2 separate regions of the Homo sapiens genome follow, and region 2 is linked to region 1. The links come from fine-mapping of genetic effects on gene expression. Tissue or cell type: whole blood. Region 1 holds a variant in brackets; the other region holds the start of a gene. All regions are shown on one strand. Distances are from middle to middle.

Evidence for each region. PIP is the estimated chance that this variant, and not a neighbour inherited with it, causes the effect.
Region 2: it holds the start of PHGDH, and the variant in region 1 is the best candidate, but not a certain one, in a credible set for the expression of PHGDH in whole blood (TOPMed, PIP 0.53).

What each region holds. Positions count from the first base shown.
Region 1 is chr1:120,418,649-120,423,796 of GRCh38, forward strand. NBPF8 (NBPF member 8) reads left to right here. Exons shown (of 23, transcript NM_001037501.5): 2 at 1,202-1,470. Among named protein-coding and RNA genes, the nearest start is that of NBPF8, 6.2 kb to the left of the region's middle. The variant C/T (reference allele first, on the strand shown) is at 2,981.
Region 2 is chr1:119,708,942-119,714,089 of GRCh38, forward strand. PHGDH (phosphoglycerate dehydrogenase) reads left to right here and starts at 2,993. Exons shown (of 12, transcript NM_006623.4): 1 at 2,993-3,219. The coding sequence starts at 3,082. It overlaps LOC105378937 (a long non-coding RNA gene), which reads right to left and starts at 2,905. Exons shown (of 3, transcript XR_947757.4): 1 at 2,793-2,905. RefSeq lists enhancers at 2,785-3,314, 2,796-2,845, 2,986-3,265, 3,316-3,405 and a silencer at 3,546-3,645.

The DNA.
Region 1 (5,148 bases):
CAAGCAGTCTGCCCACCTCAGCTTCCTTAGTAGCTGGTTCTACAGGCATGCACCACTATGCCCGGCTAATTTTCTATTTTTTGTAGATAGGGTTTTCCTGTAGTGCCCAGACTGGTTTCAAACTCCTGGGCTCAAATGACCCTCCCACCTTGGCATCTCAAAGTGTTGGGATTACAGGCATAAGCCATCACCGCTGGCCATTTTAGTTTTAATAATTTTTATGTTTTTCTAATTTAAAAGATTTACTAAAATCTCTTACAGCTATTATTTATGAATATAGTATTCATTGTTGTTATTATGATTATTTTGTATGTGTTCAATCTCATTTTCAACATAAGCTCCTGGAAATTTGAGATTTTGTCTCTTATTCACCACTGTATTCTCAGTACTTGACCTTGCCTGGCATGAAACAGATATTGAATAAATATTTGTTAAATGAATGAATGAATGAACATACTAATACCATATTCAACAATCTCCAAGTGTCACAGTTTTCACCATCTAACAAATAAAATAGCTTGTATACAGCAGAGTCACAGTCAACCTGACATAAAAGGAAATGTCAATGAAAAGTAAACCTTTGTATGTGTTGCTGCTAAGATTTTGGGGCTTTTGTTACTGTAGCATAACCTAGCGAAAGCTCAGCGAGACAGCCTGTAGAATATACGTGTACAGATAGACCAGATAGACCAGTAGATGAGATTCCAAAGAAGCATTAACTACACCCACACACTCTTAATTCCCTAACAGAAAGAATCGAATTCTTGTTCACTAAGATCTGCCTCAAGTATTACTTGGTGAAAACTTCCCTGGCTACTCAAGTATTTAGTCAGGACTCTTTATTTTTTTTTCCCCCAGGCTGGAGTTCAGTGGTGCCATCATAGCTCACTAACCTCTAATTCGAGGCTCAAGGAATCCTCCTGCCTCAACCTTCAGAGTAGCTGAGACTACAAGTGTGTGCCACCATGCTGGGCCAATTTTTCATTTTTTATTTTCAGAGATGGGGTCTTACTATGTTGCCGAGGCTGGTGAGGACTGTTGATTACATATGACAGGAACCCAAACAATTCTAGTTCCCCACCACCTTTCAACCTGCTCCTCCCTGGGTCTTCCCAGTCTCCGTAAACGGCAGCTCCATCCTTCAAGTTGCCGAAGCCCCAAATCTCAATATTAACCATGATTTCTCTCTTTTATCTCATAGGCAATCTGAAAGCAAATCCTGTTTAGATGCAGGCGAAGGTTCCTGGTGACCCAGGCTCTCACCTTACCGTCCCTTACCGTCCTCCTGAGGGTGTCCTGGAGCTTCAGTGCTGTGTGTTCTTGGCCTCCACGCTGGGGGTGCCACCAACTCCCACTGTCCAGGGCTTCCAGTGGACTCTCCGAGGTACTGATGTAGAAACTTCCCCATTCGGTGCACCAAGAGCAACCTCACACGGTGTGGGCCGAATGAAGAGCTGCCAGATCCCACAGGTAAAAACCCTGAGGCATTGCCAGCTCGATGGAGTCAGAGAGTCCTTTTTCTATTATGACTCAGATGTGAAGGGAAGATGCCAAGGGCCCTAAACATCGCAGGGCCTTGCCTGGCATGAAACAGATACTGAATTAATATTTGTTAAGTGAATGAACAAATATTCACAGCGTGTGCCACCCTCGACCTGCAGTGCTGTTGTCAGGTGGAAGTGATTTTACTTCAGGAGAGGACAGTGTTCTCTCCAGGACTTTTCCTTAGTAGCTAGATCTACATCCCACTCCTTGCTCTTCCCCTCTTACCCCCCATTCTCTGCCCCCATTTCCGTCTCTTGTTTCCACCCTGCCGTCCCCTTTCACCTGCTTTCTTCTCTTCAGCTTTCATGGCTCACCCCCTCCCTGTCCACCCGCATCCCCCAGGCTAAGGCCCTGCACTGTCCTGGGTGGGGAGATGTGTGTGGTTTTAGGCAGTGCCCTCTAGATGTGTCCAGGATGGGGAAACATGGCTCAGTTGCCAGTATAATGGGTTAAAAGAGAGGCCACTTTTGAAGGCCGTTCCCATCTCCCATTCCAGAATCCTGTAGGACTTAGAATTTATGGGCCACAGTGGAATTCTTGGTTCCCCAGGACCTTGTGGTGGATGTCTTCTTTCACTGAGCATTCATGGGGTGACTATTAGGCACCATGCCCTGCTCTGGGCTAGAGACCCCATAACGAGTAAATCTCAGGTCACTACCCCATGGAACCCACCACTGCAGGCATTGAGAGGGGGAGAAAGAAAGGGGCATGGCCTGTTTGTATCCTTCTCACGTGGCCGTCCACCAGGTCCTGGGGGAGTGGGAGCCAGTGCAAGGAGGGAAGTCCAGTGAGAATGACAAATGGACGATGTCAGACCCAGGGGCTGAGGTCCCCACCTGCAGCTGGGCAGCTTCTGGAGTGGACAAGGAGCAGCAGGGAAGGTTGCGGCCTGGTGTTCTGGGATCCACTGTCTCATCTCATTCTTTTGGGCACCAGAACTTATCCAAAGACAAGACTCAGTGTCTCTGGCAACAGTGGGCCAGAGGAATAATGTGTTTCAGAGAAGGAAGAAGGGGTTGTACCCCATGGAAACAGTATATAGTTTTACAGTAGTGCGTCTGTCTCCAATAACTAGTTAGCGTGTTCCTGTTAATGGAAAATACTGGTGGTGTAAGTTCCCCTGGATGTTCTCATCTTCATGTAAGTTTGTTCATTTCCTTCCTTCCTTCCTTCCCTACTTCTCTCCCCTCCCTACTTCTCTCCCACTCTTTTTCTCTCTCTCTTTATTCTTTCCCTCCCTCCTTCCCTTCTGCCTTCCCTCCCTTCCTTTCTTCCTCCCTTCCTCCCTCTCTCCCTGCCTTCCTCCCTCCCTCCCTTCCTTCCTTCCTTCCTCCCTTCCTCCTTCCTTCCCTCCCTCCATTCTTTCCTTTCTTCCTTTCTTCTTTTCTTTTTCTTTGTCTCTCATGCTCTCTCTTTTTCTTTCCTTTTTGTTCTA[C/T]TTTTTTAAATAGACCACACTGCACTGAAATCTACATTACTTACCAAAACCTCTGGAGCTGCTTCTGTCTTGTAGGCAGGGAGCTCGTCCTGTAGCCCTTAGGTCCTCCCAGCCTCCTCCTCCTCTGATTTGTGGGTGCCACTGGGGCAGCTGCTGAGTCTCAGTGGTTCCTAGTCATCACCAAGTTCTGCCCACCTAGATGGTTTGCACCTGTCCTTACCAGAACCCTGCACTGTCTAGATGACTGAGGCTGCTTCTGCCTAACTGATCTGCTATCTGTGTTCTGGGGGCACCCCAGGGTTAGAGGTAAATGGCACAGGCATTGAAATCTCCAACTGCTCTGACTCCAGGTTGGTGCACTTCAATGCCAAGTACTAACCACACAATAACAGGATGCCACCAAAACCTTGGTATGGGGCTGCTGCATCCTAATTAAAAAAAAGTAATAGATGTTATTTTTTAGAAAAGTTCTAGGTTTACAGAAAAATGGAGTGGATAGTACAGAGAGTTCTCCTAGGCTCCCCTGTCCTCCAGCACACAGTTTCCCCTATTAGTATGTTGTATTAGTGTGGTCCATTCATTACAATTGATGAACCACTATTGATACATCATTATCAACTAAAGTCCATAGTTTACACTAGAGTTCATTCTTTGAGTTTCACAGATTATGGGTTTTGGCAATTATGTAATGTCCTAAATCCCCAATACAGCATCATGCAAAATAGTTTCACTGCTGAAAATTCCCTGTACTTCACCATTTCGTGCCTCCTCCTCTCCTCCACCCCTGACAACCACTCATCATTTTACTACTTCTATCTTTTTGACTTTCCAAGAATGTCCTAGAGTTGGAATTACAGTATGTAGGTTTCCAGACTGGCTTCTTTCTAGCATTGTGTACTTTTAAGTTCCTCCACGTCTTTTCATGACTTGACAGCTTGTTTTGTAAAATCACTGAATCAGATTTCATTGTATGGCTACAACACAGTTTGTTTATTCATTCACTTGGTGAAAGATGTCTTGGGTACTTCCAAGTTTTGACAATTATGATAAAATTGCTGCAAGTACTTATGTGCAGGATTTTGAATGAACTTAAGTTTTCCAAAGTGACTGTACACTTTTGATTTCCACTAGCTATGGAGAGTTCTGGTTGTTCCTCATCTTCGACAGCATTTGGTGTGTTCACCGTTTTGTGTTTTAGCCATTCTGATAGGTTTACAGTGATATCTCGTTTTAATGTGCAATTCCCTCACAACAAATGATTTTGAGCATCTTTCTCATATGCTTATTTGCCATCTGTATATCTTATTAATGAGGTGTTCAGATCTTTCACCTTTTTTTTTTTTTTTTTTGCTTTGTGTTGTTTAGTTCTCAGAATTCTTCATATATTTTGGACAGCAGTTTTTCCATCAGATTATTTTGTAAATATTTTCTCCCAGTCTGTGACTTGCTTTTTCCATTCTCTTAACAGTGTCTTTCACACAACAGAAGTTTTTAATTTTAATGAGGCTCAACTTAATTTTTTTTCATTAGTAGATTGTGCTTTTGGTTTTGTATCTAAGAAGCCATCATTGAACCCAGGATCCCTCAGATTTTCTCCTATTTTATCTCTTAGGATTCTTATGGTTTTGCACCTTACATTTACGTGTAAGATTTATTTTATAAAGGGTATATAACATGCATACCTGGATTTATTTATTTTTTTGCATGTGGTTGTCCAGCTGTTCTAGCACCACTAGTTGGAAAGGCTATCTTTGCTGCTTTAAATTGTCTCTAAACCTCCATGGAAGATCAGTGGACTGTATGTAGGCCTGCTTCTGGGCTCCGTATTCTTTTCTATGCATCTATATGTGTGTGTTTTCTCTTTTCACCAACTTCACACTATTTGGGTTACTGTAGCTTAATGTAAGTCCTGAAGTTGGTAGTGCCAAACCTCAGGGAGTTTTTCTGAACTTCATCATGAGAACCTGGTTGAGATCATTGTAGTAACACTTGGAAATGTGTGAGATTCCCCCTTAGTCTGGTCTTCAAGGAGTTTTTAATGTTCTAGCCAGGCTACCCTCAGCTTCTAGTAATCTGTCAATACCATTTAAGTGCTCCTCCCACTTGCTGTCCCCAGTAGCTTCTCTTCCCTGTGAGCTGTGACTCCTTGTGTGTTAGCCTGTGTTTCT
Region 2 (5,148 bases), 710 kb before region 1:
GTTTGCAATTGATGTTGGAGATTCTGGGGTGTAGTGGTGAGGGATATATCTGTATTGGCAGTATCAGGTCTCAGCCCGACCAGCAACACATTTGATGATATCGCTTCTAAAAATCACTCGGTACCTCTGTACTAACTTTGGAGTCAAGTTTAAACTCCTCCTCAGGGCAAGACACTTCATGAGCAGCCCCTGGCCCCTCTGCAGTCTCACCTCCTGGTATCCCACTGGCATCCCCCACAGCCATGGTAGAGAAGCCATGAACATGTTGCAACTCCTCACAACTCTAAGCCTTTGGAAATGTCATTTCTTCTCCCCCGGCTAATTCATATTCAGCTCTCAAGATTAGGCAGTTAACCATGAGCAGCTTCAAGGCAGGTTATGTTTTACCTATCTCTGTATCCTTGAGCCTCTCAAAGTAGCTGCCTTGAATGAGTTTCAAAAGGTTAGCTGAAAGGCAACCTTGCTTGGAAATCCTCCTGGCACCTCAGGAGATGGTTCTCCTCCTTGCTCCCAAAGCCCTCCAGCACACCTTTATTTATAATTCTTAAACTATACCTTTTTAATTTTTTTTATTATTTTTTAGAGACAGGTCTCACTCTGTTGCCCAGGTTGGAGTGCAGTGGCACAATCATGGTTCACTGCAGCCTCGAACTCCTGGGCTCAAGCAATCCTCCTGCCTCAGCCTCCCAAGTAGATAGGACTACAGCAATGTGCCACCATGCCGGGGTACTCTTCTTAAAATGTTGTTCTTTTTTCTTTTTGAGGAAAGAAGGCTGTGTCTTATGTGTCACAGGGCCTAGCCCATAGGAGGTACTGGATAAATTAATTTTTGAATCAAACCTCTTCTGAGCCTCTGTGATGTGGAAGGCATGGTGCTAGGCACTACTGGGGGTATACAAAATCGTGTCTCTGATTTAAGGAAATGAGAGTTCATGGGGAACAAGACATGAAAAGTTCATAAATATATTGCTTAAGGCACTGTGAGATAACTTGAAGTTAATTCTATAGAAATTTAAAAGGAGGGAACATTTCTGACTTATGTAACAATTATCACACACCCTCCTTTTCACTTGGAAATGGACTCTTAATCTGTTAATTATTTTCTTAACGGTTTAGAAGTGTCTTTTATTGTGTGGCTTGGATCTGTTTAAAAAGTAGGTGGGTCATAAATAATAAATAAAGAAAACAGGTGATCAGGCTTAGGAGGCCCTCTGGGTTGTGCGTTCAGACAGTATCCAAGAAGTTTGACTTGGTGTGAAAGGGTGGGATTACATGTTAATGATAGCAGGGTTTAGATTCTACACTGAAAGGAAGCAGTTAGTGAGCCCTGGGAGGAGTTGAAGGAAAGCAGTTACAAAAATGGATGCTTCCCAAGACCCTCCATTAAGCCTCCTGGGATAGGTCCCCTGTCTGTCCCTAGACTCCAGGGTACTGCTGGGCACTTCAAGAGAGACAGAGAATTTGAATACTCATGAGTCTTGGAATGTAGGAATAACAATTCATCCGAACAAGCAAACATGATAGACAATTTTTTTTTTTACCCACTGAGGACATTGTGTCTAAAAATCTGATTTGTGCCCAGGAATTATCTGTATAGAATTTTCATTACTTTATAGAATTGATATTGCATAGTTCTGTAGGATAAGGATCTAGCACTTGAGTTATGAATAGCTCAGGATGACATAACACACAATGGTTAGTTGGACTGGATATGTCCATAAAGCTGAATTCTAATTCAACTATGAGCATCTCTGATTCTGCTTCTGATTCTAGGTGACTTTAATCCCAAATTGAATTTTCTGACATTTCTGTAAAATGGGGCATGAGAGAGCACGTCGGTTATGGGGTTTAAATATAAAAGAGTTAAGAGCTGAGAAGTGCCTCCTTGGTCAATTAAACCACACTGACATCCCGTTTTCCTTTTCTTCTTTTTCATAATTAGAGAGGAAGTGGAGGGAAAGGAAATAAATAACTTTAACAAAGTATGCCTAGTTTAAATGCACCAGGTCCCCGCTCTTTTATAAACTCATAATTCTCATTGCATCACTAATTTGAAATTAATCACAGCTCCTTGGTGTCTCAGAAAGCTTCCTATTGCTTTTCACTACGTAACTTTCCAAGTCTGTGTGTTTGGTACTCTAGGATGTTAGGCCACCAGAGGAAAGAGGATGTATCTTTTTTTTTTTTATACTTTAAGTTTTAGGGTACATGTGCACAATGCGCAGGTTAGTTACATATGTATACATGTGCCATGCTGGTGTGCTGCACCCATTAACTCGTCATTTAGCATTAGGTATATCTCCTAATGCTATCCCTCCCCCCCTCCCCCCACCCCACAACAGTCCCCAGAGTGTGATGTTCCCCTTCCTGTGTCCATGTGTTCTCATTGTTCAATTCCCACCTATGAGTGAGAATATGCGGTGTTTGGTTTTTTGTTCTTGCGATAGTTTACTGAGAATGATGATTTCCAATTTCATCCATGTCCCTACAAAGGACATGAACTCATCATTTTTTATGGCTGCATAGTATTCCATGGTGTATATGTGCCATATTTTCTTAATCCAGTCTATCATTGTTGGACATTTTCTTTTTGATAGTCGAATTCCCTTCAACGTCTAGCACAGTGCCTTGCACATTTACCCACTCAAAAAAAATTTCGTAAGGAATTAATAAATGAATCCTTAGGAGGAAAAGTGAAAATGAAGTTTTTCTCTCAGGATGAGGTGTATTTCTCCGTTCATTTCAGATATGCATCAGCTAGTCAGCGTAAATTGTGCTTTTTATATGCTCACCAGGTGTAGGTAAGAGCTTTGGCTGAGATGGAGAAATTCATCGCGGGAGGATAATAAAGCGGGCAGGGATTTGGCAACCTCAGAGCCGCGAGGAGGAGGCGGAGTCGCGGAGAGTTTGAGTATTTCCGTCCAATCAAAAGGAGACTGTAAGAGGAGGAGGAGGAGGAGATGACTGGGGAGCGGGAGCTGGAGAATACTGCCCAGTTACTCTAGCGCGCCAGGCCGAACCGCAGCTTCTTGGCTTAGGTACTTCTACTCACAGCGGCCGATTCCGAGGCCAACTCCAGCAATGGCTTTTGCAAATCTGCGGAAAGTGCTCATCAGTGACAGCCTGGACCCTTGCTGCCGGAAGATCTTGCAAGATGGAGGGCTGCAGGTGGTGGAAAAGCAGAACCTTAGCAAAGAGGAGCTGATAGCGGAGCTGCAGGTAAGGCGAGAGAGAGAAAATTGAGGTCTCTAGGGCAACCTCCATGGAAAAAGGCTGGCTGCGCCCAGGCCAGCGCGCCCCCCTCGCATGCACCCCGTATCAATTAGTTCCGGGGCCTCCTGAGATTGGGGGGTAGAGAAGAACGGGGGCGGGAGGAGGCAGAAAGAGGGAAGAACAAACGGCGGCGAGATGCAAACTTTTCTTTTAGTTTGCAACCGCGTCTTTCACGTTGGCATGCCTCCGCTAGCATTGCAAAGTGCGGGCTGCTCCAACTGGTCCTGCAGGCTGCTCGCGGATGCCAGCGCGGGATGCCAGCGCGGCGCCCCAGCGCCTTAGCGCGCAATTGTTCTGGCAGCCTCGCGCCGCCTCTCCCCCAACCCCCAACCGCCTCCGCGCGGGGCGATCGGGAGAGGGGCCCCAAAGTGGCTTCTTTGCGGGGAACCCAGGGACTGGCGATTCTTCCCAACCAAGTTCTGGGCCGCCCCGCCGATTCTAGCCTGCCTTGGCGGTGGCGGGGTTGGGGGGGTCGGGGGGCGGGGGGAAGCTGGCGGAGACCCAACCAGTCTGGTGGCTGCTGGGGCAGCTGGAGGGGAAGGCAGCCCTCGTAAGGCAGCAAACACGTACCCGCCCCTCGTCTGATGCAAGACTGCTCCGTGCTTTCGCCGCCCCTCTGCCTCCTGGGAGCCTTCGGAGGAAAGGGAGGCGGGCGGGGAGCGCTGGGGTCCAGATTTAGCCTCCTCCCCACCTTTGGTTTATCGCTGGTTGGGAGTGACCAGACTCGACTAGAATCCGATCCCAAACGCTCCCAGATGATTTATAGTCTTAGCAAATTTTTATCTCCTTTTGTTGTGATATATAATTAATCTACTTCAAATCTTTATCCACCGTGTTTGAAAAGGCCTGCTGGGCCTGGTGGCCTTGTCCGGAATATTTATTTTGTGAACTCTTCACTCCAGTGCCTGCACTTTCGACCTCTGTAGTCGACCCAGCTGCCCAGTCTCTACCTCACCTGATCCAGTATATTCTCCCCCACCCTCCAAATCGCACAACCGCCTTCTGCCCGCCTCAGCCCTGTCCACCACCTTCAGCCGTCTCCTCCTCCGAGGACCCCTTAGACCGCAGAGGCTGCTGTTGTTGCTTTAGTTGTGCCACAACCACGTGGTCCTGGAAACTGCCTCGCTCACTTTGTCTGCCTTTGTATCTGCTGGCGTGGATCTTGTCACCATGGCATGACACTATATCCAAGTATCCAGCTCTGCCCTGTACTCAGAAGAATTTGGTCCCTGCCTTCAAGAAGTTTGTAAGCTGGTTAGGGAGCATGGCTAATACGCAGGAGACAGTTGAGCAGATGACACAAGAGCATAGCCCCGAATTAGACCATCCAGCTCCCTAACCTTTGCGTGTTCCCCTTCTGGAAAAGCCAGAGAAAGGTCCAATCATCATGCACAGAATTGGTGGGCAAGGGCTTAGGACTTGAGTAGGATTGGACGGGTGGCAGGCTCCTCACATCTGTCACCTCCTTTCTTGTGTGAAATTGTATCAGTGGCTCTGGGGAACAACCAGGAAAGGCAGTGGGGTGTCCTGCAGAACAGCCTCTGACTCTCACCTCCACCAGAGCACCAGGTTGGGAAGAGGGTGGCAATCAAGTGCTTTCACCTCTCTAAAGGAAATTAGAAACCTGATACCCCAGTGAGGGGGTGGGGATAGGGAGGGATGAGGGCAGAATTGAGAGGAATGGGAGGCCTCATCCATAATGAGGGGTTGTTCCATGAAGTCAGGAATCAGCTGGGTGGATGCTGGGAGTCTGGTGCTGAAACTTGGAGAACATTTTAAAGGCGCTGAAAACTCTTGGCAGGAGAGGAGGAGTGTTTGTTGGCTAACTTGACTGCTGGGCATTTTTGGACTGTTTGGGAGGGCTCAGCTTTCTTG